7 linked regions of the Homo sapiens genome follow. The protein of the gene in region 3 purifies or fractionates together with the protein of the main gene of each other region. This does not show direct contact. Each region holds a gene or a part of one and is shown on either strand. Other genes may lie near its edges.

Region 1 (4,199 bases), on a different chromosome or scaffold from region 3:
TGAGGCGATGTCTCGCCCTGCTTCGGCTCACGCTCGGTGGGCTGCACCCACTGTCCAACAAGCCCCAGTGAGATGAAGCCGGTATCTCAGTTGGAAATGCAGAAATCATCCGTCTTGTGCGTTGCTCACGCTGGGGGCTGTAGACTGGAGCTGTTCCTATTTGGCCATCTTGGAACAGGAATCAAAGGAAATTTTTTAAAAATCCCATTTATGATAGCATCAAAAAGAGTACAATAGTTAGGAATAAATTTAACCAAGGATGTAATAATGTGCACACTGAAAATTATAAAACATTGATGAAAGAAATTCAAGAAGACACAAATCAATGGAAAGATACCTTATGTTTATGGATTGGAAGAATCAATATTATTAAAATGTTCATACTGCCTGAAGCAATACACAGATTCAACACAATCCCTATTGAAATTCCAATGGCATTTTTCACAGAATAGAAAAAAAAATTCTAAAATGTGGATGAAACTAGAAGACATTATATTAAGTGAAATATACTAGACACAGATAGATAAATACTGTATGATTTCACTTATATATGGAATCTAAAAAAAATGTTCAGTTCATAAAAGCAGAGAGTAAAACAGTGGTTGACAGTGGGTGGGAGACCTGGAGAGATGTTGGTCAAAGTGTATGAACTTACAGTTGTAAGATGAATAAGTTCTGGATACCGGACATACAGCATGGCAACTATAGTTAATAATAATGTATTGAATATTTGAAATATGCTATAAGAATAGATCTTAAGCATTCTCACCACATACCCAAAAAAGTAACTATGTGAGGTGATGGATATTTTACTTAGCTTGATTGTGGTAATAATTTCACAATGTGTACATTTATCAGAATATCACATTGTATACCTTGAATATATACCATTTTTATTTGCCAATTATACTTCAAGGCAGAAAAAAATAAAATTAGAGTAGAAACAAAAGCTTGGAGGTCTGAAATGTTACTAAAAGTGTAACATTTTCCTTTTTTCAATATTCTTGCCACATGGTGGGTAGGTCCTTTTAGTCTGAAGATTCAAGTCTGTCTTATTTGGGGGATATTTTCTTCAATTAGTCCCTTGATTATTGATCCTTCTCTTTTGGCTGTATTCTCTCCTGTGACTGCTAATAGGTGTGTAAATCAGTACCAGGCACATAATAAGCACATGTTAAATATCTGTTGATCGTATAAATTGATCCTGGATTTGCTTGATCAGTTTTCCGTGTATCTTACATCTTCTTTCATGATTTACAACCTAGACATTTTGCTGTTTTCAGAACAAATTTTTTGAATTGTTACTGCAGAAGCTGCTTTTGCTCATTTATGTTCTGCTTTTAAAAAATTATGCCATTTTATTAAAATATAGTTTTTGGAATGTTGTCATGTTATCTAATTTTTTATGTCCTCTGATGACTTTGTTTAAAATTAGTTCAATTATGTCTTGTATCTGAGGATACTTATTAGAAATTTTTTTATTACTGTTATTCTATCTTGTTTCCCATATTAACTTTGTTCCATTAAGGACTGTTTGTCCCCATTGCTTTTTTTGTCTCCTCACTTTAACTGCTGTTTCTTCTCAAAAGTTCTAGTCAATGCATATATTCTATTCAACATATATATTTAGCTCTAGATGTAATCAGTTTTGGTATGTGCCTCCAGGTGGCATCCTGTGCAGTCTTCATGAAGTGAAACCCAAAGACTGGTGCCCCTGTCAGTTGTTCTACTGCAGAGACTTTGTGGAGTATGTGGTTGGAGATGAATCTATGGTTAAGGGAGTGGATTTTTTAAAACCAATATGTGAAGTATAATATACATAAAGTGCATCAACTGTAAGCATACAACTTGTTGTGTTTTCACAAAGTAAACATACCATGTAGAACCAACACCCAGATTAAGAACTAGAGCACGAACAGTACCCCAGAAGCTCCCTTCTCCCTTCTTTTAGTCACTACTCTTCTCCAAAGGTGGCCACTGTCCTGATTTCTCCACATAGATTAATAAAACATAGCAGGGGCCGAGAGTGGTGGCACACACCTATAGTCCCAGCTACTCAGGAGGCTGAGGTGGGAGGATCGTTTGAGCCCAGGAGGTCAAAGCTGCAGTGAGTCGTAATTGTGCCACTGCACTCCAGCTTGGGCGACAGAGCAAGACCCTGTCTCAAGATAAATAATAAAATATAGCAGGTATTCTGTTTATGTCAAGTTTCTATTGCTCAAAATGATGTTTGTGAGATTCATCTGTGGTAAATTGTATAAATGTAGTAGTAGATTGTGAATTGTCATTACTGTATTGTATTCCATGTTATGACTCTCCTGTAATTTATGCATTGCACAGTTGATGGGCATTTGGGTGGTTTCCAGTTTAAGGTATGAAAAGTAGTGCTGTCCAAAACATTTTTTTATATGTCTTTTGGTGAATTTGCATACATCTGTGGGACCATACCAGAGTGGATTGCTGGATTATTAGGGAGTTTTGTTGGTTGGTTGTTTGCCATTTTGTTTTAAACTCCTTGTGTCCTGGTGGGAATTGTTCAGTAGATACTGAGAAATTGATGATGCAAAAGAAAATGGATAGCAGAAGGAATGAAGTTCTATGGGTTTTGGCCCTCACAAAAGTAAATACATATCTTCCTACAGAAATCAAACAGGTTTTTATGGCTCAAAGCCCCGGAATTATACGGGGCAGAATAGGCGAATGTGCTTGCAGTCAGCTGGCTTTAAAAGAGCCTTTCTTATTGGAAGTATAGAGAGGAAAATTCTTTTCCACTAGCGGGAAGAACCACTTCTGGTGCTCAACATCATGTGCATTGCTGCAGTGGAGAAGAAAAAAGAGGGAAGCGTTTTCATTGGGCTCATACTGCTTATGATAGGCCTGGCAGAGTCTTGCTTTTGGCAACTATTGAGTATGAATGGCCAGTCTCTACTTGTAAAGAGAGGTCATTGGACTTAAATGGAATTAATGGAAGTAAAATGTTCTCAGGTTGTTACTGCAAATCATTCATGTAGTCAGTGCCAGGGGTTAAACAATTCTCGCCTCTTTTCTAGTCTGTCACCTTCAAAACTACCAGCAGAAATCTTGCTCGAGCCATGTGTATGAAGAACCTCAAGCTCACTATTATCATCATCATCGTATCAATTGTAAGTTTTTGTCCTTTTAGTGTATGGCTTTATTTTTCAATCTCTAAGAAATTAGGTACTAGAATTATTTCTCAATGATTAACACTCTGAAATGAGCTACATATGTCTTTTAATAGTGAAACACATGACCAGGCAGTGGCTTTCCTATGAAGTCACTATGAAATATCTCTACTTAAACCCCTCCTTCCTATTGAGAATTATTATATATTCTCAATAGGAAGAGATCTATAAAACTGACCTCACAGAAATGTAGTTATTTTAAATAAAGACATTTCTGGTTTATATGTAATGGGTTTATTGTTTTTATTTTTAAATTAATTATGTATTTTTAAAGTTTTAATTTCTAATATGGCAAATGCTGATAATTATAATCCCCCTTAAACAAGAACTCTTTGGAGTCCTCAGTAATTTTTGAGTGTGTAAAGAGGTCCTAAACCACAACTTTAAAAACTATTGCTAACAGGTGGGGGGTGCTTTACCCTGTTCATGGTCAGATAAAGTTGCCTTTCCTCCCCATCCTCCAGTCATGTCCAGAAGCCCAAAGTTACCTCCAAGCAGATAACTCTGACCCTGCTTCTCCTCTACCACAGCTTGAGGGTCCTCTGCCTTAGACAGCTGGATTTATCTAAAAGAGAAGAGCAGTCATAGATCTGTAGATTTTATACTGGAAGTAATTGTCATGGCCTTGAATGGTTCCTTGCTCAGGTTTCTCTTTCTAATATCACATTTTAGGCTCCTGAGCTTAGCTTCTTACTTATTATTTGGTCTGGGAGTTTAGGTTGATTTGTGCAGCTGAATTGTTAAATTCAGAATATATTTACTGATTACTTATTACATGCAGAGCACAGCTCTAAATGCAATATCAATCTTTGCGAAAAGGTGTTGTCACCTAACGAGATGTACTTCAGCTTGAAAAATCCTTATATTACAGCTGTGACAAATAGTCAACTTTACATCAAGTTGGTAAACTTTACATTTGTGGCATGTGTATGTGTGAGTATGTGTGTGTATGTGTGAATATGATGTCAGAAGTTCAACCTATTCATTAATAAACAG
Region 2 (3,836 bases), on a different chromosome or scaffold from region 3:
TACCAATGAGTATTCATTTTGTAATTACACAGATCACACACATTCATTTTCATGAGCTCATCACAGTAATAGAAGCTCTCCTGAGAGCTCAAGGGAAAGGGAAATTTTATCATTGTATCTATACTAATTAAGAGGTAGTAAGTGTTCAACTGAATTAAAATAGGGCTCAGCTGTTGCCTCACCTGCCCTGAGGTCTTCTCTCTATATTAAGATGCATAAGGTGCCTTTCTTTACTCCCAGAGTTCCTCTGCCTGTTTTGCTCTCACTGTACTTTCCACATTATCTTTTATCTGCTCTGTGTTCTTCCTCTAGACTGTGACCATCTTGAGGATTCGGTCATGTGTTTTTCATCTTTGTATCCCTAACACATAACAGTACTTGGCATTTGTTAGTAATCAATAAGTGTACCACATGACTGACTAGTCTTCTTTTTACTTAACATATCAAAAAGTCTAAACCAATGCTATGTAAAGTAACTAGCCTATGAACTGTTAATAGTTTATAATGCAATAGAATTCAAGTCAGAATGTTAAAAGAAAAAGAAATGCTTCCTTTTTAAGAAAGTCTTGCTGTGAAAAAGTATCTAGCAGAACTAATGCTTTGTGATGTAGCTGATTGACATTCTTGCCCCATTTTGGTTCAAATACTTGAAAGTTGGATGAAGACATTTTCATAAGGAAAAATAAAATGCTGAGGGGAAGGATAGTTAAAATTAACTTTATGGTCTTCATTCATCTTTATAAGCACAAATATTCAGGCTGTCAAACATTTAAACTAAAGACACCTATTTTCACTGGTAAAAAAATAAATACAGACACAGGGCACTTAAAATGTTTTTAAAAAGCCAAGACACATAAAAAAAAACTAATAAATTTTTAATTAGAATTTTTTCCTTTTTTTAACAGGACAAGTAACAGATTACATCAAACTTCAGAACTTCTCAAATACCTAGTTATTATACACATTCCCATCTGTCTTGCAGGGAGGGATCTTGGTCGGCTTAACAGTTTCAGGTAAAATAAGCTGCATAATAGTATATATTACAATAATAAATGTACAATGTTTACATGAAATATGTTTTAGAAGCAAGAAAAAGATGCATCTGCATCAAAGGCGACCTTTTAAAATGCCACAACTATTTTTTACATTCACTCTTGCAACAGGTTACAAGATGGGGGTCACTAAGCTCAGATAAATCACTATGATGCACATAAAATACAGGAAGACTGGTTACTTTATATATTATATATATTTATATTTTCACACGTTAGCATCTGAGACATAAACTGAGAATTTAAAATTTATTCTCTTCAGATAACAAATCATTTTTTATTCTTCATAAACAAGGTGCCCACAAAAGCACACAGGTAAGGCACAATAGGGCTTTCTGTTACAGAATAGTGTGCATCATGTTTACTTAACCAGAAAACGTGCATTATCTGTGCAAGTTCATGCTGCAAACCCAACGCATACAATAAAACAAAAAGGAAACTGAGCTTTAAATACAACCAAAATTTGTACAATTCCAGCTGTTTCACATATTCATTTGGACTGACAATTATATATCAACAGGTTATTTTTAAAAAGCCAATTGTAGATTACAAGTAAAATTTACTCAGCAACTATTTTTATCTGAAATCATAAACAGTAATAAAGTAAGTTTACTGAAACAAATTAAATACTGAGGCACAAAGCAACAGTCAATCGTGCATTTACTATATTGCAAACTTTCATGACCCAAAATTGCAAGTATAATTTGTCAAATACACATTTTGCTGCAACAATGTGCCCTGCTTTAAACTTGACATATAACAGAGGCACTAACATATCATTAAATTATAAATAGATTGGGAAAATGACTTAACCCCAATGGTACTATGTCATGGCCCTAGTATTTATAATAAATACAGCTTTTCACAAAATATTTTTCCAATATCTGCCAATTTCTTCTTTATTGCTCACATAAATTTGACTCTATTACAACTGGTATCAGAACTTTCACACAAAATCATACTCAGACATTTTTATATAAAACCTATAAAAGATATTTTAAACTTGTATCTAATACTTCCAGGTGTTTGGCTGTTTGATCTATGCAAAAGTACAGCCATATGTATATATCTCTGTGTGTGTATATATATACATCTATATATACACACACATACACACATACATATATACACACACATTAGATTATGAATAAAATGGAAAGCTTATTTTACTGCTTTAATGCAGACATCCTCATAAAACAAGACTACTTTCACCACCACCAGCATTTATACATATATACAAAGCCAGTTTAAGTACATATACATCCACTTACACATATTTGTAACCACTAAGCCCAAATTAATTTTCCCATATTCCAGCCGTAGCAAATGAATCGCTTATAAGCAACAGAAACCTAAGGTTAAATTGGGAAATCAACAGTTTTACCACATTAGCCTGTAGGAACTATGCAGGTGACTGTATACAAAAATTCACAACATTAGTTCACAAGAAATTATGGGACTACAAGAAGCCTTTTCATCATGCTTTTGTGTGGTTATCCAAACACTTCTTGGGGCAAAAATACAACCACCACATCTGAAAATGCTTAATAAAGTCAGTGTTCCTCATGCAAAACTTTAAATGTATTGGCTTAACTGAGCTCCAAAAACTGAATGAAATAATTATCCTACCTACTCAGCATTGCTGCCTCACTGCTAAATCCCTTTGGAACCTTAAGACTTCTGGAACGTTCAGAGATGTATTCATCAATAAAAATATTACATACAAAAAGCATTTAAAAAGGAAGACAAAAAGCCAAACAGGAATTTTCCTATTGTAAATAACAGTCTTAGAAATGGAAGAAAATCTTTTCAGGAACTTCCTTGAGAATTGGTTAGGCCAGTCCGAAGACGAAGATGAGACATGGAGTTCATATGTTTATTTGATGGCTTCAATGGAGTGTTGGAAGTGAGAGCCTGGGGAAAGCGATGGTGGTATCTATCTAGTCGTAAATATTTTACTGTAACCAATTTCCCTGTTGTAAGATAAAAATAATATTTTAGATCAGTAAAACTGTTTAATATTTGCAGAAAATTAACTGTGGTAAAAGACATATGAGCACAAAACATAAATAAAGTCATCTAAAATTATTACTCAAAAAAATGCTAACCTAAATTCTTTTATTTGAAATCTGGTATAGTTTAAAATTAAACTATAACTATCTTTTCAAAATGTTTGTAGTACTCAAATTTCTTACCATCAAACCAAGAGCCATGCAATGCTTTAAAAGCCTTTCCAGCATATTCTGGAGACAGACATTTAACATATACACAACCCTGTGATATTAAAAAAGAAAGAAAATAGTCTTAGTTTAATAGCAACAAATCCAAAACATGAAATTCAATACCAAAAGTTACTTTACCTCACGTGAATTTTTGTCTACTGCAATGTGAACAATGCCATCATTATCACTGCATTTTTCTAAAATTGCTTCTTGAATTGCCAAATGCCACTGATCCCCTATTTCCCTAAAAGTTAATGAAAACAAAAATCAACAACCATATTCCTACTCGGTAAAAATTCTTCACTGTCTCTTACAACATATATATATTACTAGAATTGGTATAGTTTTAAAACCACATACGATTTTAATTGGTATTAAGTAAATGCTTGTTGACTAACAGGAGGTAGATTTAAAAATTACAATTCAGAAGTCTCAGCCCTCCTCCCACTTTCCAGTAAAAGAGTGCAGAGCGCTGGCCAGGCGCGGTGGCTCATGCCTGTAATCCCAGCACTTTGAGAGGCCGAGGCAGGCGGATCATGAGGTCAGGAGATCGAGACCATCC
Region 3 (4,199 bases):
TTTTCAATTATTTTCTTTTTACAGCTCAATTCTTTCATCTGATAACTGTTTCTGCCTGAATTATATCTCTAAATTGGGTCTGCAGTTAGAAAAATTTGTTTTTACTGACTGAAAATATCTTTATCATGCTCTTTTAAAAAAGAAATGTAACTTATTAAGAGGGTTTGTCAAAAAATATAGGTTGATGTCTTCTTTCAGTATATTGGAGACATAGTTTCAATATGTTTTAGCTTCACAGTTTTTTTAGCTCCATAGTTTTAGCTTCCATATTTGCTATTGAGAAGTAAGATTGCTTTTAATATCCTTGTCTTTTCTTTTTTTTTGAGACGGAGTTTCGCTCTTGTCACCCAGGCTGGAGTGCAGTGGCACAATCTTGGCTCACTGCAACCTCCACCTCCTGGGTTCAAGCGATTCTCCTGCCCCAGCCTCCCAAATAGCTGGGCTTACAGGCACCTGCCACCAGGCCTGGCTAATCTTTTTCTGTACTTTTAGTAGAGACGGGGTTTCACCACATTGGCCAGGCTGGTTTTGAACTCCTGACCTCAGGTGATCTGCCTGCCTCGGCCTCCCAAAGTGCTGGGATTACAGGCGTGAGCCACTGCACCCAGCCCAAAATCTTTATCTTTTGTTCTGCAATGTGACTAAGATGTTTTAAATATGATTTTTTTGTTTTTCTTTGAGACAGAGTCTCACTCTGTCACCAGGCTGGAGTGCAGTGGCGTGATCTTAGCTCATTGCAACCTCTGCCTCCTGGGTTCAAGCAATTCTCCTTGCCTCAGCCTCCTGAATACTGGGACCACAGGTGTGTGCCACCACGCCCAGCTAATTTTTGGATTTTCAGTAGAGACAGAGTTTCACCATGTTGGCCAGGATGGTCTTGATCTCCTGACCTCATGATCCACCTGCTTCGGCCTCCAAAAGTGCTGGGATTACAGGAGTAAGCCACTGCACTCTTTAATTTATCCTGGCTTGTTCTTGGATCTATGGATTGGTGTATTTCATCAATTCTAGAATAGGCTCAGCCATCAAATCTTCAAATATTGTCTCTCTTTTTTTTTTCTTTCTGAAAGTTATGTTAGATATGTTAGACCTTATAATTCTATCCATCATGTCCTTTGACCTCTTTTATATTTTCTCTTTGTCTCTCTTAAATTTTGGATAATCTCTTCCAATCTGTCTTCTACTTCACTAATTCTTTCTTTAGCTGTTAAGCCAATTCATGAAGGTTTTTTCCATGTTTTAATCTCCAGAAATTCTGTTTAAAATTTTTATGATCTATTATTTTACTTAATTTATTTAATTACTTTTAAAACATAATTCTTTTGTATTCTGTGTCTGATAAAAGCAGTTATTGAAGTCTTTCTGGGTCTGATTTAGCCTTCTGCTGTTTATATTGGATCTTAGCATGCATTGTTTCCATATGTAATCTCTGTCTCTCTGTCTGTCTCTCTCTGTCTCTCTCTCTCTCTCTAATTCTCTGTCTCTCTCTCTGTCACACACACACACACACACACACACACAACTTCTATTTCTCTACCTCTAATAGTTTTTATTATGAGCTCATGTTTCTTGCAATTTTATAATGATATTTTGAGGCCTAGGTTGAAGGTGAGGTCATTCACTTTTGCTAAGTGCTTGAGAGCACATCTTGCACTGGACCTCTTTAAACTAAATTATCATCTTGAGGTTTCTCAGAACACAGAGGTATTGAAAACTTGGTCTGCCAACTTGTGTATTCATTGGCTTGCCATTGAACATTTTTGGGGCAGCTTTCTCAACTCAGCACCCAAATCAAAGGCTAACAAATCTCTCTGTAGATTTAGGAGTAGATTTAGTGATTTTAGAGAAAGCATAACCATTTTGGGCACTAGCTTTATGTGAGGAGATTTCTATTAGACTCTCCCTCTAAGCAAACTCTCAGTTTTGACTCCTGTCCCAACAAGGGCCAGTCATCCAATTGTACACTACATAATGCCAGGGTGCATCTTTCATATAAACTATACCTTTCCTGTAGATATACGTTGTAGTCTATATGAAAGGTGCCCTTTGATAATGTTCAGTTTCCAATCTGCACAACTGTATATGATGGTTCTGTCTGTATTCCCACAAGATGGTGAAAACTAAAGTTCAAGTTCACCAGGTTCAGCAAGTGCCCTCCAGGTGAAAGCTGGGTTTGGTGCTTTGGTTTTATAATTCCATAACTGACAAAATTTGAATAGAGTAAAGACAGTGCCTCCTCCCTTTCGAAGTCCTTAAAATGGTAGGTATATTGATATCTTATGAATTGAGTTGATTTGCCAGTCATGAATTCAACAAAAATACCTATCACTTGCTTCATTAAAAGAACTGTAACATGATGAGAGTGTTTATTGCTTTGCTTTGTTTATTTTTAGATGTGGACTTTCCAGTTTTTCTCCAGCCTACAAATGCAAATGAGAAAACACAGCTAATCAAAGAAGGATCTCGAAGTTATTGCACAGACTCTTGATATTGAGCCCTCAGAGAGTCCACAGTCCCTCCTCTCAGTTCAGTCTTGTCTCCAGATGGTCGTAGGGGAGCGTGTGGGGCATAAAGTGCTGTGAACTTTTCCATCTTGTTGTTTTATTTTTGGGTTAGGAAAACATGATTGCTATATAATTTTCTCAGTATGCAGACTTTCTCTCTGAGTAGAATTTCTTATGAAACACATTCAATTTGGGTGAATAAAGGCCTGAAGAGTTATTTTACCCTCCTTGCCTGATGTAGGACAGTGGAATTGTACAGCCTTTATGAACCTGCCCTTTATGTGTGGCAGATCTGATTCCTAACTGACCAAAGTAATATTCCAGAACAAAAGCCACTTTTCTTACATTTAACACAATATTCATATCTACCACGAACATGATCATCAAAATATATGAGAACTTATAAAGAGTTTTTGTGTGTGGAGCCTCTTCCGTGTCAATATTCAATAAAGTTATAGAAATGTTTCAAGAGCCAGAAAGGGATGATTTTTTTTTAAATCACATTTTTAAGGTATATTTTTGGAACATTAAAAATTGGCATTTACTGAAAACTGGAAACCAGGAAGAAACAGGTTTTGTGTGTACTTTTAGATTGGCTTAAAAACAAAACAAAACAAAACTTCAACCTGGTTAAATGTTGTAAGTGAACCAGAAAATCATTCTGAGCCTGAACCCGCCCCATCAGCATGTTGATCATTTTCTAGTAAAATAATTTTTGTATAACTGGCTCAGATTAGCCAGACTAAGGGAAAAAAAACAGATGAAGGGGTAGAACTCTATACTCTAGAGCCTAAATTTACACCAAAACATGTATCACCTCATTTTTGTTAAAATTAGTTGCCTTGACCAGAAATTGCTCAGCTCTGTGCATGTTACACAATTTAAGCCCAGAGGTCATCTCTGCATTTGCTTGTTTGATTCTTGTATTTATTATGTGGTAGAAACCATGTGCTATTTCTAAAATACTATGGCAGAAAAAGTGTTCGTTTTTCTAGCTCTTTCTTACTTTTTTATATAATATTGCATTTTCAAGATCTTGTTATGTTTTTATATAATATTGTATAAAATGCCTTTATCTTTTTTCTTGTTTCTTATTCCCACCCAAAAAATTATAGTTAATTGCTGCTAAATATATATTGTAAGTGAGAATTAGTGTTATAGCTCTGATAGTTCTGAGGTCATTAAAATTCCACTCTAACTCTTTAGTTACTGAAATTCTTTTTCTAGGCAATCAAGTAGACAGAGCCTTGGTTTGAAAGCTAAGAAACCTGGTTCTAATCTAAGCTTTCATTAACTAGCCTTGTGACCAAGTGAGATGAAAATAACATGGCTAATCTCTCTATGGCTCTGTTTTCATATCTGCCCTGACCACCTTCCAAGTTGCTGGATGACCAGATAAAATGGCTGAAGTGAAAGAAATCTGAAAAGTCAAATGTTCAACAAATGTAAGGTGGTTTTAAATGAATTTGTATATGTTGACGCACACAGACAAATGTACTATGACTCTTGATGCATATAAACTCTCTCACCCAACAAGACCCATGGAGACACCCAGTATTAACAGCTCCAGTAACCAGCAAGTGCTTGGAACGCTGTATTCAACAAACAAATGCTACTTTCCATTTGGAGGAAACAATAGGATAAATAGCGCAATCTGTGGATAATTTGAGCCATTCCATTTCCTTCCTGTGGCCT
Region 4 (4,199 bases), on a different chromosome or scaffold from region 3:
AATAAAGTTAACTAAGCAAACACTGCTCTAGGCTGGCCTATTCTGTGATGGAAGGAAGAGAAGCAGGCAGGAATTTGGACAAATCATACCCTGTCTCTTTCTTCCTTCCATGCAACATGTTTGTAAAAGTGCAACTTCTGGAATAGAATAAAGTTAACTAAGCAAACACTTTTCTAGCTAGGCTGTCCTATCCTGTGACAGAAGTAAGGGAACCAGGCGGGATTTTGGACAAATCATACCCAGTATCTTTCCTCCTTCCATGTAACATGTTTGTAAAAGCACCACCTCTGAATATCAAGGATTGACTTAATCAGGGGGAACACAGAAAACGAAACTGAGGAGCAGCAACAAATTTACATGTTGCTACTGGACATGCAAAGAGTGGCAACCCACAATCTGAGAAACTTCTACAGAAGGGAAGAAAGCGGGAAGGGCAAGGCAGCTAAGTCTTCTCTTGCACACGCTGCCTTCTCAATGCTGGAGATGGGAGCATTTCAATGCTAATGACACAAATACTCCTCAGCTACTACATCATGGTCCGACCTTCTCCTGGAGCAGCAAAACCCGGCAGAAGGAACAACACCCATTGGAATCAGGAGACCTAGGCTTATGTATTACTAGTTGTGTCACTGTAAGTTAAGTGTTTTAACTTCTCTGATCTAGCGTTTTTACAAGTAATATGGAGATAATATTTTTTCTGTCTACTTCACAGGCCTGTGGCTACCAAACAGAATGATGCATGTGCAAATATTATGTTACCTGTAGCATAATAACGATGCATGGGCCCATTGCTATTGGAATACTAGAATATTGAAAATGGAGCCCTAGGATGCCCTTCCACTTTTTCTGTGAGTCATAACTAAACATATGCTTAACTTCACAGTAGTAATTGAAAAATTAAATCTCTCACCTATGCACCGTCCAGTCCACAGGCAGTGTTGATCATATCGAGCCACACAGCAGTTGCATACATGGCAGTGGAGTGACCTTAATGGCTTCCTTATCTAAGTGGGCAATTAAGAGAGGCCTAAGCAAAAACCAGTGTCTCAAAGTGGTAACAAATCACAAGCAAAATTTTAACTTTAGGTCACAGAGGCATTGGCACAAATCCTAAACAGACCATCAATTCACACAGAGGCTGTGGAATGCCTTATTAGTATTTACTTCCATATGTCTACTTTGATTAGGACATCACTAAGTGGGATCTGAATTCCAGAGCCTGTTCACACTGGCTAAGCAGAAATGAGGCAGTACCACAGAGCAAAATAAGCACTCAACCAAGGGAAGGAAACCCAAGTTCCATTTTTAGCACCACCAATAATTTGGGAGAATTTACTTCCTCCCTTGATTCCTCAATTGCAAAATGAGAGGTTTCACTAAGTGGTTTCTAAGGTCATTATGAGCCTCTGATTTGACGTTAGTTCTAATATATGCTTCATGACAGAGAAAAGCAAATAAAACACACAATGGATAATTCACGGAGAGATGTAACCAGAGACAACTTCAAGAGATTATAAACATCATTCTGCCATATGTTCAAGACAGAAAGCTGTTCAGACAGGAATGTAAAATTAGAAATGGGTAAAAACAAAGGTGTATAAATATACCATGAAGATCTGACAAATGCTTACATCAGCAACGTTACCAAGACTTTGCTTTCACTACGGAAAAAAATTATATGAAAAAACTCACAAGACATGATGTACAAAATGTTCTGAAGTCCAGAGAGCCAGTTTCTGCAAGGGTGATGATATTCTGAAAGACATGAAGTTTGACCTATTACCACATTTTATTGGAAAATGTATTATGCATGGTTATACACCATTCTCACAGTTCTCGCTCCAAACTGAAGTAGTTAGAAAAGCAATTTGGAATACTTGCCACCAAATCATTCTGTGCTTGAAATGATGTGACTCTTCAAGGTTGCATTTTCAACCAACAGCTAATAAATTAGGATGCATAAAAATTATACCACCCCACCACTCCCACCTATCACCTCATCTCTGTGAATGGCAATCATCTCCCAGTTATGATCTGCTAGAGAAAAATAAATATGCAAATATACACACACATTAAAAAAGAAAAACCCACCAGTATACATCAAAACTGAAAGTTACAAGCACCAAGGGCTGGGTCTTTCAGGAACACTGGCTTTAGGTAACAAAGACAACATTCTCCAACTTCTAAACATTCATGAGCAACGGAAAACATGCCATGTCATCTGACAACTTCACATTTGAGGAGGAGGAGGGGCATCTCCTCAGCCAATAAGCAGAAGGACTCTCCCTGGTCACTGACTAGTTACTCTCCATTTATTTAGTGGGGAAATGTAAGCTAAATGACCATTATGAAAATGTTATTACAAGGAAGTAGGAGATCATATTCCTAAAAGGAATCACATCTGAAAAAGTCTTGGTGGGGTATTATTTCAACAGAAAATAAAAATATGTGTTAAAACTTTCATATACATAAATGAAAAAACTGTAAGAGTGGAAATCTAATTTTTGCTATATCACCCCACATGTCATGCAGCCGTAACAAAAAGCAACACATCTGCATATGTGCATATAAACTTTCTAAAGTTTACAAACCCTCCTATTAAAAATATCAGTAACGAAGAAATCTCACCACTTTCTTTTCTTCTTCAGAAGCCTTAGTGAAGCCTGGATCAGTTGCCCAAGTCTTATAGAAAAAGTATAGAAAGGCTACTATGCTGAAAATGAAACTGAAATAGAAAGGGGCTCCTGCTAAATGTTAAAGCCAAGTTAAGGAATACACCAAACTTCCTTTAAAAATAATGTAATTATGATGTAAGCAAATTTCATCATTGGCACCTAAGAATCTCACCTTCCTTATGCACACATGTCCCTGCCCCTAAATCTCTTCCCATCCTATGTTCTAATCCTACTGGAATTTGTTCCCACTTGGCTAATAATTAATGTTTCCTTATTAGTTGAAGCTCATATTAAATACTTGATAGGAATAGTTGCAACTTATGAGGAACATCCTGAAAAGTGACACTCAAGACCAAATAAATTTATCTCTAATGGTGTAATTGTGGCTCTCCTGTGAGCATCTAGAAAAATATTCTTTGATCATTTTAACAAAATCATTCAAAGAAACAACCCTCTTGATTCAGAGATTCCAAATAAAAGTATTTCCCTATATATTAGATACATGTTTGCAGAAAGACACTATTAAAGGTACATAGGGCAAGATCCTTTGTGAAAGAATCACATCATAATTTCTTTATGAAATCCTGATCGACACACGACTCAAAATATATACGTTCAGTTCTCAAAAATACGTTCAGTTTCATAATGCAATGATCCTGCACGCTGAGCTGACTGAATTTTCGGCTCCTATTTTGATTAACTTACAAAACAAATGGCAGGGGAATCATTGGATCACCACTCTCCAAGTAAAGTGAATTACACCCTATCACCTCACATAGAAGCTGAAGACACTCCTTGCTTTGGTGCTCTTGCCTGTGTGGTTCACTGACCTAAAATGTCCCCTACTTCCTCTCATTTTCTTCTAAAACCACACTTTTAGGGTATCCAAGTCTTAACTGCGATTAAAACCTAACTTATATTTTCCCTCCTTCCTTGCAATCTTTTCTGATTCCCTGGAGAGAATCATACTCTCCCTTCCCTGAATTTAAGAATGCTTTATCTAAGGCACTCAGATGTGGACTATAGTTTATAGACACACAGCCTTCCCAGTAAGCTGGTAACACTTTTGCAGTTAAGTCTCTCAATATGGAGCTAAAATTTGCCTTTCTATAACTTCAACCAACTGATTTTCATTCATTAGATCCTTTAGATCTGCACAGTAGCTGTCTTTTAGATCTAACCTACATAAGCTTATCCCCTCATTGGTTCAATACATTTTTACTGAGTGCCCATTCTACATAGTGCATTGGCTTCCAAATGATAGACTTCCAAACACTTGAAATTGGAAGACAGTGATCATACCTCCAAGATAAACAGCAACACTGTCCTTATATAACATTTTCCTGGTCATGTTCCTCTGTTCATGCTCCCATTTGTCATTCTCTCTTTTAAAAGGATATAATTCAAAACAGAGCAAACACCAGTGTAGAGGACAGAGAAGCTGCTGTTGTCTTTTGCTTGGACACTCAAATCCTTGTAATACTATGTGAGAATATACTTGCTTTCTTGACAGCTGCATCACTA
Region 5 (4,199 bases), on a different chromosome or scaffold from region 3:
TCATTTAAAATTCTGGTAGAGGCCGGGTGCAGTGGCTCACGCCTGCAATTCCAACACTTTTTGAGGCAGGAGAATCACTCGAGCCCAGAAGTTCAAAACCAGCCTGGGCAACATAGCAAGACCCCTGTCTCTATAAAAAATATTAAAAAATAAGCTGGGCATGGTAATGCATGCCTGTGGTCCCACCTCCTTAGGAAGCTGAGGTGGGAGGATCGTTGAGCCTGGGATGTCAAGGCTATAGTGAGCCATGACTGCGCCACTGTACTCCAGCCTGGGCGACAGAACAAGATCCCATCTCAAAAAAAAAAAGTTGAAAGAACTTCAAACTTTTAGAAAAGTTGTAAGAGTAGTACAGAAAACTCCCAAACACCCCTGACCTGGCTTCTCTAGTTAACATTTGCTCCATTTGCTTTGTCACTCACGTTTGGGACTTCACCACAGTCACCATCTCATCACCCTTACACATTTCAGTGTGATACTCTTGCATAAGTACAGCGATAAAATCGGGAGATTTATCAGGTCACACTGTTTTTCCTTGCTCAGCTAATATCTTTCTTTTTTTTTTTTTGAGACAGAGTCTCGCTCTGTCACCCAGGCTGGAGTGCAGTGGTGCAATCTCGGCTCACTGCAAGCTCCGCCTCCTGGATTCACGCCATTCTTGTGCCTCAGCCTCCCAAGTAGCTGGGACTACAGGCGCCCGCCACCATGCCCAGCTAATTTTTTGTATTTTTAGTAGAGACGGAATTTCACTGTATTAGCCAGGATGGTCTTGATCTCTAACCTCGTGATCCGCCCACCTCGGCCTCCCAAAGTGCTGGGATTACAGGTGTGAGCCACCGCGCCTGGCCTTTTTTTTTTTTTTTTTTGGTGAGACAGAATCTTGCTCTGTCTCCCAGGCTGCACTACAGTGGCGCGATCTCGGCTCACTGCAACCTCCGCCTCCTGGGTTCAAGCAATTCTCCTGCCTCAGCCTCCCAAGTAGCTGGGATTACAGGTGTGTGCCACCACACCTGGCTAATTTTGTATTTTTAGTAGATACTTGATTTTGCCATGTTGGCCAGGCTGGTCTTGAACTCCTGACTTCAAGTGATCCTCCTGTCTCGGCCTTCCAAAGTGCTGGGATTACAGGCCTGAGCCACCAGCCTTGGCCCCCATCTTAAGGTCTTTAATGTAATCCCATCCGCCAGGACCCCTTAGCCCGGAAAGGTCACGCATTCACAGGTTCCGGGGATCAGGATGTGGATATCTTTTAGGGCACCAGTATCCAGCTGCCACAACACCCAGGCTCTTCCCGTCCCTCCTCTGCCCAGAGCCTGCCCCCGGCACCCCAGTGCCCTCAGGCCCGCATTCATGTTCCTCTTGTCTGCTCGGAGCCTGGGTGGACCTTGGCCACACCCGCCCAACCCTGCCCTTCCCGTATGCACCCTGACCTTCTTGCGTCAGCATTTTTAGAAATTGCTGGCGTGCAGCCTTGGGACCTTTGTCCGTTCGCCCCGCTCTCCCGTGACATTCTTTCTCAGGGCTCTTTGCCTGGTCCATGGACCTTCCATCTCCCCTGGAATGTCACCTCCTCAGGGTGTCACCGCCCCGGCTGTCCTGTGTGAAGGAGCCTCTGTGTTATTTGTGTCCTTGGTATTCCTTTGTTCATCCCTTGGTCGCCTGTTCTCTGTCTCTCTAGACTGGGTGCTCCAAGAGGCAGAACTCTTTTGGTTGTTGTTGTTTTTGAGACAGAGTCTCACTCTGTCGCCCAGGCTGGAGTGCAGTGGCGCGATCTCGGCTCACTGCAACCTCTGCCTCCCAGGTTCAAGCGATTCTCCTGCCTCAGCCTCCTGAGTATCTGGGATTACAGGTGCCCGCCACCATACCTGGCTAATTTTGTATCTTTAGTAGAGACAGGGTTTCACCATGTTGGCCAGGCTGGTCTCAAACTCCTGACCTCAGGTGATCCACCCGCCTCAGCCTCCCAAATTGCTGAGATTACAGGCATGAGCCACCCCGCCTGGCCTCCAAGAGTCAGAATTCTGTCATCATTTGATTCCTGCTGTGTCCATAGCGGCCGGCGCTGGGTCAGCCTGGAATAGCGGCTCAACACACGTCCCTGGCACAAATAATGAATTTGAGATTCAGTTTGTACCTGTGTCCTGCACACCTGTCACTCCTCTGGGCTCAGCCAGGGCCGGAGCTGCCTCCACTGCAGCCTAGGTCTCCCAAATTCTAGCTGCCCGTGTGTGTGTGTGTGTGTGTGTGTGTGTGTGTGTGTGTGTGTGTGTGTGTCTTTCTGCCCACTTGACCAAGGGGTGTGTGTGTGTGTGTGTGTGTGTGTGTGTGTGTGTGTGTGTCTTTCTCCCCACCTAACCAAGGGCCACTGGAGGCCAGGGCCAGGCTGATTCATTTTGGGTCCAGCATTGCACAGCGCAGGCCTGGGCCCCTAGAAGCCTCGGGAGACATGCGTGCGGTAAGTGTGTGTTGGCAGCGTGTGCGCTGTCCTTTCCTGCCTGGAAACCCTACCCCTTCCTGACTACTTGGAAACTCCCATATGAGGGAGGCTGCACTTGTTTGCTGAGGCCGCTGTAACCAAGTACCACTGACCAGGTGCTTCAGCAACAGAACTTGACTGTCTCATGGCCTGCAGTCAGAGTCCAAAGTGAAAGTATTGGCAGGGTTGGTTCCTTCTGGGGCTATGAGGGAGGATCTGTACCAGGCCCCTCTCCTTGGCTTGCAGATGGCCGTCTTCTCACTGCATTTTCACACCATCTTTCCTCTCTGTGTGCCTGGCCCAAATTTCTCCTTCCATTATTATTTTTTATTAATTATTATTATTATTATTTTTTTTTTTTTCCAAGACAGAGTTTTGCTCTCGTTGCCCAGGCTGGAGTGCGGTGGCGCGATCTCAGCTCACTGCAACCTCTGCCTCCCAGGTTCAAGCGATTCTCCTGCCTCAGACTCCTAAGTAGCTGGGATTACAAGCACGCGCCACCACGCCTGGATAATTTTGTATTTTTAGTACAGATGGAGTTTTGCCATGTTGGGCAGGCTGGTTTCGAATTCCTGACCTCAGGTGATCCACCCGCCTTGGCCTCCCAAAGTGCTAGGATTACAGGTGTGAGCCACCGCGCCCGGCCTATTATTATTTTGAGACAGGGTTTCACTTCTATCCTCCAGGCTAGAGTGCAGTGGTGCGATCTCGGCTCACTGCATCCTCCCCCTCCCACGCTCAAGTGATTCTCCTGCCTTAGCCTCCTGAGCAGCTGGGACTACAGGCACACACCACTGCACACAGCTAATTTTTATATTTTTTGTAGAGATGGGGTTTCACCATGTTGCCCACGCTGGTCTCGAATGCCTGAGCCCAAGTGATCCTCCCACCTCAGTCTCCCAAAGTGCTGGGATTACAGGCATGAGCCACTGTGCCCAGTCATAAATTTCTGCCTTTTATAAGGTCACCAATCATGTTGGATTAGGGCCCACAGTAATGACCTCATCTTAACCTGATTCCCTCTGTAAAGACCTAGTCTCCAAATCAGGTCACATTCTGAGGTACTGGGGCTTAGGACTTCAACATAGAAACTTAGGAGCGTGCAATTTAACCCCTAAGATTGGTTGATGCTTTATCAAAAATTTTGATGTTTTTCTTTTGTTTGTATGTATGTATTTATTTTATTTATTTATTTTTCAGACGGAGTCTCACTCTGTCACCAGGCTGGTGCAGTGGCGTGATCTCGGCTCACTGCAACCTCCGCCTCCCAGGTTCCAGTGATTCCCCTGCCTCAGCCTCCCAAGTAGCTGGGGCTACAGGTGCGCACCACCATGCCCAGCTAATTTTTTATGTTTTTATTAGAGATGGGGTTTCACCATGTTGGCCAGGATGGTCTCAATCTCTTGATCTTGTGATCCGCCCCCCTTGGCCTCCCAAAGTGCTGGGATTACAGGCGTGAGCCACCGCACCCAGCCTTGTTTGTTTTTTTTAAAGAGTGGTTGAGGCTGGGCGTGGTGGCTCACACCTGTAATCACAACACTTTGGGAGGCCGAGGTGGGTGGATCACCTGAGGTCAGGAGTTCAAGACCAGCCTGGCCAACATGGTGAAACCCTGTTTCTGTTTCTACTAAAAATACAAAAATTAGCCGAGTGTGGTGGCATGCACCTGTAGTCCCAGTTACTCGGGGCTGAGGCAGGAGGATTGCTTGAGCCTGGGAGGCGG
Region 6 (3,903 bases), on a different chromosome or scaffold from region 3:
CCTGCAGAGGAGGAGAGGCCCAAGGCCGCTGCGGGCCTGGCACGGGCTGCTGTCCACGGGCACCCGAGGAGTCCGCGGCGAGGAGCGGCCAGGCCGACCAGCTCTGCTCCCGCGGGTGCCGTCTGGGAAACTTCTCGGCTCCCGCCTCTCACCTCCCCGCGGCCCGCGCACCCCCGACGCCCGTGGGGACCGGGATCTGGCCGCGCTGCTGGGCCGTGGCGAGCTGGCGTTCGGCGCCCGGGACCCACGACGCGCCCTGCGTCTCCGACTTCGTGATGCCTCGGACTTCCCGTCACATTTCAAGACTGCGGGATCCCGGGGCCCTCGCTGGCTGCACCAGAGGGGTCTCCACCTGGCGGGACCCTCTTCCCGAGCTCCCGCGGGGCTCCCGGTCGGAAGCTGCCCTCCCAGGCCCTCGCGAGCGCCCCACCCTCGGGCCATTGGCTGCCCCCACCCCAGGGGAGCAGGGAAGATGCCGGCTGGACTGGAGGAGGCAGCTGCTAGGATCCAGCACACCTGGATCACCCAGGAGAGGCTGCAGCCCTGAGGTTCCTTCAGCTGCTACCCTAGGAACAAAGCCCCTGCCCCTCCCACAGGGCCTAAGGTGCACACATCTGCAAGACCAGCTGCCCAGCCAGCTCAGAGGCAGGTTGTCCTGGCCCAAAGGTATTCTGGACAGTGTGTCCTTACCTTGGTGTCAGAGAAATGCCCACCCCACGTTCCTGGTCCAGATGCTGCCCACAGCAGGAGGCGGAAACCAGCAGATTCTGAGCATATCCCTGCTCCCCTGAGAGCTTCACAGAGGAGGGATACGGCTGTGCAGGGGCTGAGCACTGGGCTGTCTCAGGACTAGGCCGGGACCCCTCAGCAGGGCCCCCACTCCAGATGAAGTCACAGCATCATCACAAGCACGTGCACTTTATTGAATGACACTGTAGACAGGTGTGTGGGTATAAACTGCTGTATCTAGGGGCAGGACCAAGGGGGCAGGGGCAACAGCCCCAGCGTGCAGGGCCAGCATTGCACAGTGGAGTGCAAAGGTTGCAGGCTATGGGCGGCTACTAGTAACCCCGTTTTTCCTGTATTATCTGTAACATAATATGGTAGACTGTCACAGAGCCGAATACCAGTAACAGGATGAATCCAATGGTCATGAGGATGCCCAGAATCAGGGCCCAGATGTTCAGGCACTTGGCGGTGGAGGCATAGGCCTGGGCCCCGGTCACGTCGCCAACCATCTTCCTGTCCCTAGACTGGGGGAGAGGAGATGGTGAGGGGACCAGGATCCCCCAGCTGAGAGCCGCGTGCTATGGCTCCGTCTCCTCCCCGCCCTGAGATCAGGGACCACCTCCTCCCCTTCCTCACCCGGGCTCAGACTCTCCAGGAGCCTCGGGGCTCATCCTCCTTCTGCCTTGGCCCCAGCACAGGCTGTTCTCCCCACCATGGGGTGAAGTCACCTGTGAGTTCCCTTCTCACTTTCTGGGAGAGCCTGGGTGCCAGTCTGGAAGGTGAGGGTGTAATTTCTTACTGGGCTATAGGGAGAATTGCTCTGGGCTAATGGATAGCCAGGGACAGACTCTGAGCCAGCCAGCCAGCCTCCTGGAGCCTCCTCCTAGACCTGCACTGGGCAGATTCCCCAAAGCCACACACACACACAGATCACACAGACAAAGCTACTGACGTGAGCACACACGGGGCAGAGGTGCACACAAACTCACAGTCACAGGGACACACAAGTCCCCACCCCAGGCAGCATGTGGGCAGGTGGAGCCCCAGGCTCACCGGCACCCCCTGGATTTCCGCCAGGGCCATACGCACCTTCACGGAGTAGGCGAATGCTATGAAGCCCAGACAGCACCAGTTCAAGAAGAGGGTGTTGAACAGGGACCAGACGACATGGTCGGGCACGGAGGTCTCGCTGTGGATGTTGATCACGGTGGACCTTGGAAGGATGGTGCTGGGGGGTGGCCCCAGCACAGCCACCTCATGTTCCTCCTTGTGCATCTTCTGGCTTTGGGGAAGGAAGTGTTGAGTGAAGGTTTGAGAAGTGTGGTTTTCTGCGTGGAGCGAAGGGCCGCTGTGGTGTCCGGATGCTGGGACGGTGCTCAGTGAGACCTCCTTTCCCCTGTCGTTTCAGTTTCTCAGAAGTGTGTATTTCTCTTAAGTTTCTATTTCCTGCTGTTTGTAAATTGGTGAATTAGCCAGGGACCAATGAGGTGTGGTTTAACTTCTTGAGGATCAAATTACTTTATGGCAGGGTGGGAGGAAAGGCTGAAGGCTAAGGAGAGAGGCTTCCTCATCAGAAACTCAAGTCAGGACTAGTGACTTCCTAAGTGTTGGGTTTAGGGGGCCCTGGGGATTTTACCCAGGCTTGGGTTCTGTCCACCCCAGGCCAGCAAGTACAGGACCTCACTGTCCCGGTTCAGGGCCCCTGCCAGGCCCCCACACTCCAGGCGCCAGGACAATCCCCCAAAAGCCCTCACCTCACTTGTCGCAGGCCTCTCTCCTGAAATCCTTGCTCTTTCCTCAGGCTGCAGTCCTGCTCTGTGCGGGTTTGGGGACTAAACCTCCCAGTGTCTCCTGGTGCAGGTCAGAGGCCTGGTGGCCAAAGTTTCCTGCCCCAAAGCAGCCCTCCAGGCCCAGGAACGGGGACTCTGGGGAGAACTGACTCCCCAGAGGGTAGTGTGTTGAGACACGGGGAGGATTCCAGGGCCTGTAGGGGCAGCTTCAGAGCACAGGGCACACATGTGCCACCCCCTACCTTCCGGGTCCCAGCAATTCCCATGGCTTTGGTTGGGGTGAGTGCTGGATGACCTAGGCGTTGGGTCCTAGCCATGCAGGAGAGACCTGGAGGGTTGGCAAAGCCAAGTCTGGGGCTGTCAGGCCTGGGTGCCCCTTCACAGGGACGGGGAATTGTAGACTGAGTAGCAGAAGGGAGCCCTCAGGCACAAGGATCATGAATTACAAATTGCAAATTACATAAAGGAAAAATCAGAGCCCAAAGGTGGGCCTGCAATTATTAATGTAATGTTCTTAAGTTCTCTTTCTGCTTTCGTTTCTGCCTGCTTTAAGTCTGCTGTTACTTTTCTACAGAGATAAAATCCACTGTTTGCATCCAACCATTTCTTTTTATTGTTTGTGTAAACCAATGAATTTGTATTACTATCTCATGGCTGGAGTTCTGAAGTAAAACCATACTTTTGCTTGAGTGTGTATGTGTGTATATGTGCACATACACATATTTCGTTATGTGTTTTTGGCCACAAGTTACCAAATTTAGCTTAAACTTAAAGAGTACTCATAAATTAAATAATAAGCCTAAATGCTTTTCACGTTCATGTGACTTAAGTAGAATCTTTAATAAGCTAGCTTTAAAATTACTGGTAACGTTAGAAATTGTAGCAGGACGAGCCACAGACAAAACCCTCAGACATCGAGTTGAGGAAAGAAAGGGCTTTATTTGGCCTTTATTCGGCCAGGAGCATCAGCAGACTTAACATCTCAAACACCGAGCTCCAAAACCATCAGCCCCTCCCTACCCATTGCAGCTAAAAAAAAAAAAAAAGAACTAGCCCTTGCCCTTGCTTGGAGTCCCTGCTGGGCCTCCCCAAATCGCACACCAACCCCCCCACCCTCCACCCACCCCTCAACAGGCCGCCTCCAGCCCCAGCCACATCCCAGGCCACTTAGACCAAACTATGTCTGGGTCCCGGCAAGCCAGGGGTGGATGTGGATGGAGCGTGCTCTGAGACATCGAGGACTGCCTACACAAACTCCTCACAAGGCTCTGTGACCTCCTATCAAAGGCCACACATCACTGCGGAGTGGGGTGGGGCTTGAATTTCCCGTGGAAGGTATTTTGGAAGCTTCTTTAAATCACGGGCAGTTTAGGAAGGAAGAAAC
Region 7 (4,199 bases), on a different chromosome or scaffold from region 3:
TTGATATTACTTAGAAGTGGACCCAAAGACCTCATTGAGTTTTGAGTCTGTTACCTGTGACTAAACTAAAGTGAAGATGTTTCTGGAGTCCCTGATGAAGAGCCTTATTTGTTTTCTTCTTCCCTACAGGTTGTTTTCTGCATGGACCGTGCCCTAGAATTTGCCCCTGCCTGCCATCGCTTCAAAATCCTCAAGGCAGAATGTTTAGCAATGCTGGGTCGTTATCCAGAAGCACAGTCTGTGGCTAGGTATGCAGTCAGGCTAGCTGGACATTAAAATGCCAGATACCATTGGACTGATGGTGTCCGGCAGCTTCACCACAGGATATGGTCCCCAGAGTAGGCCAGCTAGGGCTGATCAGACCCTCTTGGGACTTAAAGTCAAAGATTAGACCAGCTTTGAAAACCCGTAGGGTATACAGGAGTATAGTAGTATAGCAGGTACTTGAGCTATATATGAAAGAACAGATTGTGTTTTTGTGGTTTTGTTTGTTTGTTTAAGGTAGTCCTTTTCCTTCTACTCCACTGGTTGGCACACTTTCTGCAAAGGGCCAGATTTTAGCCTTTGCAGGCCACAGGGTCTCTGTTGCAACTAACTCAACTCTGCCATTGCAGTGCAAAGGTTGCCCTAGATAATAGATGAACCAATGGGTGTGGCTGTTTGAATAGTGTTTTATTTACAAAAACCAGTGGCAGAAAGGATTTGGCCCTGTGGGCTGTAGTTTGCCAAACCCTGTTCTAGTTTAATAAGGATTGTAAGACACAAGATGTGTATTAAAGATAATTATAGGTGGTTTATTTGGGGAAAGTTTGGGAACAGTTCTTGGGAATCTGTCTACCTTTGGATATTTTGAATGCTAGACACATGGTCAAGGAGGAAAACTGGCCACAAATGGTAGTAATGGTGGGGACATTCTAAAGCACAGCTCAATGTGCCCTTTTCTGACTATTGCAGTGACATTCTACGAATGGATTCCACCAATGCAGATGCTCTGTATGTACGAGGTCTTTGCCTTTATTACGAAGATTGTATTGAGAAGGCAGTTCAGTTTTTCGTACAGGCTCTCAGGATGGCTCCTGACCACGAGAAGGCCTGCATTGCCTGCAGAGTAAGTTCTAGTCACCAGACCTAACTGGGAAAGAGCTTCCTTTTGGGACCTTTAAGATGGCTAGAGTGGAAGGTTTTAGAATCACAAGGAATGTGATAGCTTTTCCTCCTGCTTTGCAAGGATGCTTGGTCTTTATTAGAAATGGTTTCAGGACTACTTGTATTTACCTAAAGGTAGATGTGATCATATAGGGTCGGATGCCTTTAATATCTAAGAGGGTTTTTTTGTTTTGTTTTTCCCCTCAGTGAAGATAGATAGTAATACTTGTCCTGAGAAGTGAAGGCAGACCCAGTAACATAGGTCTCATTGGTATTTTTGGTAACTCTTTTCCTGTCCACTCTGTAGGAAGCTCAAATGAGCAACAGATAGCCCAGATTGGGGGTTGGCGGGGCTCTGTGATGCTGAACTGCTGGAAGCAAAGAACTTGAAAATAGAGTCTGGCCTCTCTGTGCAATGGTCTGAGGCTTTGTGGATATGAACCGATCCTCCCCTTGCTTTTTTCTGTAGAATGCCAAAGCACTCAAAGCAAAGAAAGAAGATGGGAATAAAGCATTTAAGGAAGGAAATTACAAACTAGCATATGAACTGTACACAGAAGCCCTGGGGATAGACCCCAACAATATAAAAACAAATGCTAAACTCTACTGTAATCGGGGTACGGTTAATTCCAAGGTAAGCTCTTGATCTAGATCTTGGGGCCTATAGAAATATTTTTAAGGGACATCAAAGGGTCTTGGGAAATCTGCCTAGTGAGGGTAAGCAAGATGAAAGAGGGAAAGTTGTTATGGTTAATAGTTTGTTAGGAACTCCCTTCCAAGAGGCAAGCTTTTGTCATCTCTATGGAATTTGAGGGCAGTTGGACAATTTGCAAGGATATTCTCACCTGTTCATTAAGGTCCCTTTCCTCCAGTAAGAGAATGGCTAGGGTCTGTGGGATAATCTTAAGCACCTACTGTTGCTTTTTTGTTGTTTTGCTTATGCAAGTGATCATTTATTTTTTAGGAGTGATTTGGAGGAAGAGTATGAGGCAAGCTTGTTTTTCTCCAGTGTAATTGATGGTCACCATGCATGGTTGAAAATGGCCTGAGTGCTTTTGTGGCCCTACCCAACATCAGAAACAAAAAGTAGACTCCTTGCCCTTGCAGAATTCTAGCAGTTAAAAATCAGAGTGATTTCTGATCCCTGCAGGTGACCTCTGGAAAAAAGGAGGGCAGGAACCAGCCTTACTATTTTCATGTTTTCATTGGGCACTAACATGGAATGGTAAAGGTAGTTTATCCTTGAAGACAGATGTGCCTGGCTTGTATCATATACAAGAGAAATCAATTTTGAAGTTGCTGTCCATAGCCCTGGTGACAAAGAACTAGAACTTAATATGACATTTAAGGGGCCAGCATGACTGATCCTCTTAGAGTTTTGAAGCCATGCTCACAGCTTCTGGGCTCCCTCAGTCACCAAAGGTGTGAAGTATGATTGCTCTCTCTCTCCTGAAGCTTAGGAAACTAGATGATGCAATAGAAGACTGCACAAATGCAGTGAAGCTTGATGACACTTACATAAAAGCCTACTTGAGAAGAGCTCAGTGGTAAGTGCCTCTGATGGGTAGGGGGAAGAGGGAGTTGCCGCTGGCCTCAGGGGAATTGCCTTGTGGATGACGAAGCAGACCCAGAGATGTTGTGAGGTCATTTGGTCCTTCCCCCTGCCTCTAGGTGGGATTGTTCCAGCCCTAGACTATCTTTATAGACCTCCAGCGGAGGAGATTGCACAAGCTCCCTCAGTCTCCCATGCCTGTGTCTAACGCCCCTCACGGTCAGTAAGTTTCCTCTGATGCCTGACCCAAATTCCTTTTGTTAAAAAGTTTAAATCCATTTCCTTTGGAGATTTTATTTTGTGTTGTACACTTATGCTCTACCCTGGCACAGTGCTTGACACATAGGTGCTCACTGAATAAATGTTTTGTTGAATGAATGTATGGTGCTTGGAAGAGAAAACAACTCTTGGAGACAGTTGAGAGTTGTACTTCATCCTGTTTGTTCTGGGCGAGGGAAGACAATCTTAGAGTTGGAAGAGATGTAATCCGGCTCAGCCTCCCAGGATAAAGGAACTTCCTTTTGAAACACCCTGGATGGCTACTCTCTGCTTGAGTGTTTTGAGTGGAGGGCACTCTGTGTCTGACAGGGTGATTATGAGCCAGGATGTGCCTACCTCTAATGCTCACATTTGCCCCAGAGTCAGGGTGCTCCCTGGCATGGTTGCTCCTCTTACTCTTAGACCCACCAGCTGGTTTTCTCCAGATAGGAACAGGGCTAGGAGAAATCTTTCTCAGAAATCCATCTCTTCTGATTTCAGATTATTCTCTAGGCGGAGAAAAACTTCCCGTCTTTAAAGTTCTTAGAGAAGATGTATTTATTGTATACTAATCCTCCAGCACCTGCTCCACTCCTTATTATAAAATGTCATATCCAAAGAACAGATGCTGTCACTGATGCCTGATGAGCCAGTAGTTTAAGCTTCCTTGTCTCATCAGTGGTACAGAATATCTCATGGACTACCTCCCACTTAGTTTTCTCAAAATTATCTCACTTAAAATAGGAAAACTGCTGCTGTGTGTGATGCTTTTTTTAAAAGTGAATTTCTAAGTTGATGACTAAGTCTGTCCAACAGAAACATACAGGGAATTATAACTTCTGTGAGACTGACTGTCAGTCATTCCATCTTTGCAAACCACTGGCACACAGAAGCAGAAGCTTTGGAAGACAAAAAAAGCACCCTTTGATTCAGCCAAAGACTGACTTTAACAGACGCAAAATGCTATATACATGAAGGTGTTTGCTGCAATTTTATCTATAATAGCAAAAAAAAAAAAAAAAAAAGGCGGGGGGAGAATCACCTACATGTCCAGTGGGAAGGGGGTGGCTAGATACTTGATACTGTATGAACTTAATGGAATGCTCTGTATATGGAATGCCAGGGGATGGGAAGAGAAGAGAAAAATCGCTTTGTTTTATTTTTTGGGATGGAGTCTCGCTATGTCGCTCGGGATGGAGTCTCGCTATGTCGCTCAGGCTGGAGTGCAGTAGCACCGTACTGG

What was found.
Region 1: the proteins of DNAJC5B (region 3) and VAMP7 purify together in Homo sapiens (affinity purification with mass spectrometry; one large-scale study listed by BioGRID and IntAct). This does not show direct contact.
Region 2: the proteins of DNAJC5B (region 3) and LEMD3 purify together in Homo sapiens (affinity purification with mass spectrometry; one large-scale study listed by BioGRID and IntAct). This does not show direct contact.
Region 4: the proteins of DNAJC5B (region 3) and ZDHHC13 purify together in Homo sapiens (affinity purification with mass spectrometry; one large-scale study listed by BioGRID and IntAct). This does not show direct contact.
Region 5: the proteins of DNAJC5B (region 3) and NUCB1 purify together in Homo sapiens (affinity purification with mass spectrometry, with the first as the bait; one large-scale study listed by BioGRID). This does not show direct contact.
Region 6: the proteins of DNAJC5B (region 3) and IFITM1 purify together in Homo sapiens (affinity purification with mass spectrometry; one large-scale study listed by BioGRID and IntAct). This does not show direct contact.
Region 7: the proteins of DNAJC5B (region 3) and DNAJC7 purify together in Homo sapiens (affinity purification with mass spectrometry, with the first as the bait; one large-scale study listed by BioGRID). This does not show direct contact.

The regions. Positions count from the first base shown.
Region 1 is NC_000023.11:155,936,651-155,940,849, forward strand, and holds part of VAMP7 (vesicle-associated membrane protein 7), read left to right. Parts: intron 1-3,050; coding exon 3,051-3,143; intron 3,144-4,199. UniProt on the Homo sapiens protein: Involved in the targeting and/or fusion of transport vesicles to their target membrane during transport of proteins from the early endosome to the lysosome. Required for heterotypic fusion of late endosomes with lysosomes and homotypic lysosomal fusion.
Region 2 is NC_000012.12:65,245,351-65,249,186, reverse strand, and holds the end of LEMD3 (inner nuclear membrane protein Man1), read right to left. Parts: intron 3,519-3,836; coding exon 3,413-3,518; intron 3,327-3,412; coding exon 3,248-3,326; intron 3,026-3,247; coding exon 2,862-3,025; 3' UTR 832-2,861; downstream 1-831.
Region 3 is NC_000008.11:66,097,544-66,101,742, forward strand, and holds the end of DNAJC5B (dnaJ homolog subfamily C member 5B), read left to right. Parts: intron 1-2,393; coding exon 2,394-2,488; 3' UTR 2,489-3,702; downstream 3,703-4,199.
Region 4 is NC_000011.10:19,161,857-19,166,055, reverse strand, and holds part of ZDHHC13 (palmitoyltransferase ZDHHC13), read right to left. Parts: intron 2,754-4,199; coding exon 2,629-2,753; intron 1,756-2,628; coding exon 1,693-1,755; intron 1,005-1,692; coding exon 911-1,004; exon of another isoform or gene 909-910; intron 1-908. UniProt on the Homo sapiens protein: Palmitoyltransferase that could catalyze the addition of palmitate onto various protein substrates. Palmitoyltransferase for HTT and GAD2. May play a role in Mg(2+) transport.
Region 5 is NC_000019.10:48,906,425-48,910,623, forward strand, and holds part of NUCB1 (nucleobindin-1 precursor), read left to right. Parts: intron 1-4,199. UniProt on the Homo sapiens protein: Major calcium-binding protein of the Golgi which may have a role in calcium homeostasis. Acts as a non-receptor guanine nucleotide exchange factor which binds to and activates alpha subunits of guanine nucleotide-binding proteins (G proteins).
Region 6 is NC_000011.10:312,272-316,174, reverse strand, and holds IFITM1 (interferon-induced transmembrane protein 1), read right to left. Parts: upstream 2,136-3,903; 5' UTR 2,005-2,135; coding exon 1,819-2,004; intron 1,254-1,818; coding exon 1,062-1,253; 3' UTR 903-1,061; downstream 1-902.
Region 7 is NC_000017.11:41,986,313-41,990,511, reverse strand, and holds part of DNAJC7 (dnaJ homolog subfamily C member 7), read left to right. Parts: intron 1-129; coding exon 130-248; intron 249-954; coding exon 955-1,108; intron 1,109-1,615; coding exon 1,616-1,780; intron 1,781-2,601; coding exon 2,602-2,693; intron 2,694-2,817; exon of another isoform or gene 2,818-2,917; intron 2,918-4,199. UniProt on the Homo sapiens protein: Acts as a co-chaperone regulating the molecular chaperones HSP70 and HSP90 in folding of steroid receptors, such as the glucocorticoid receptor and the progesterone receptor.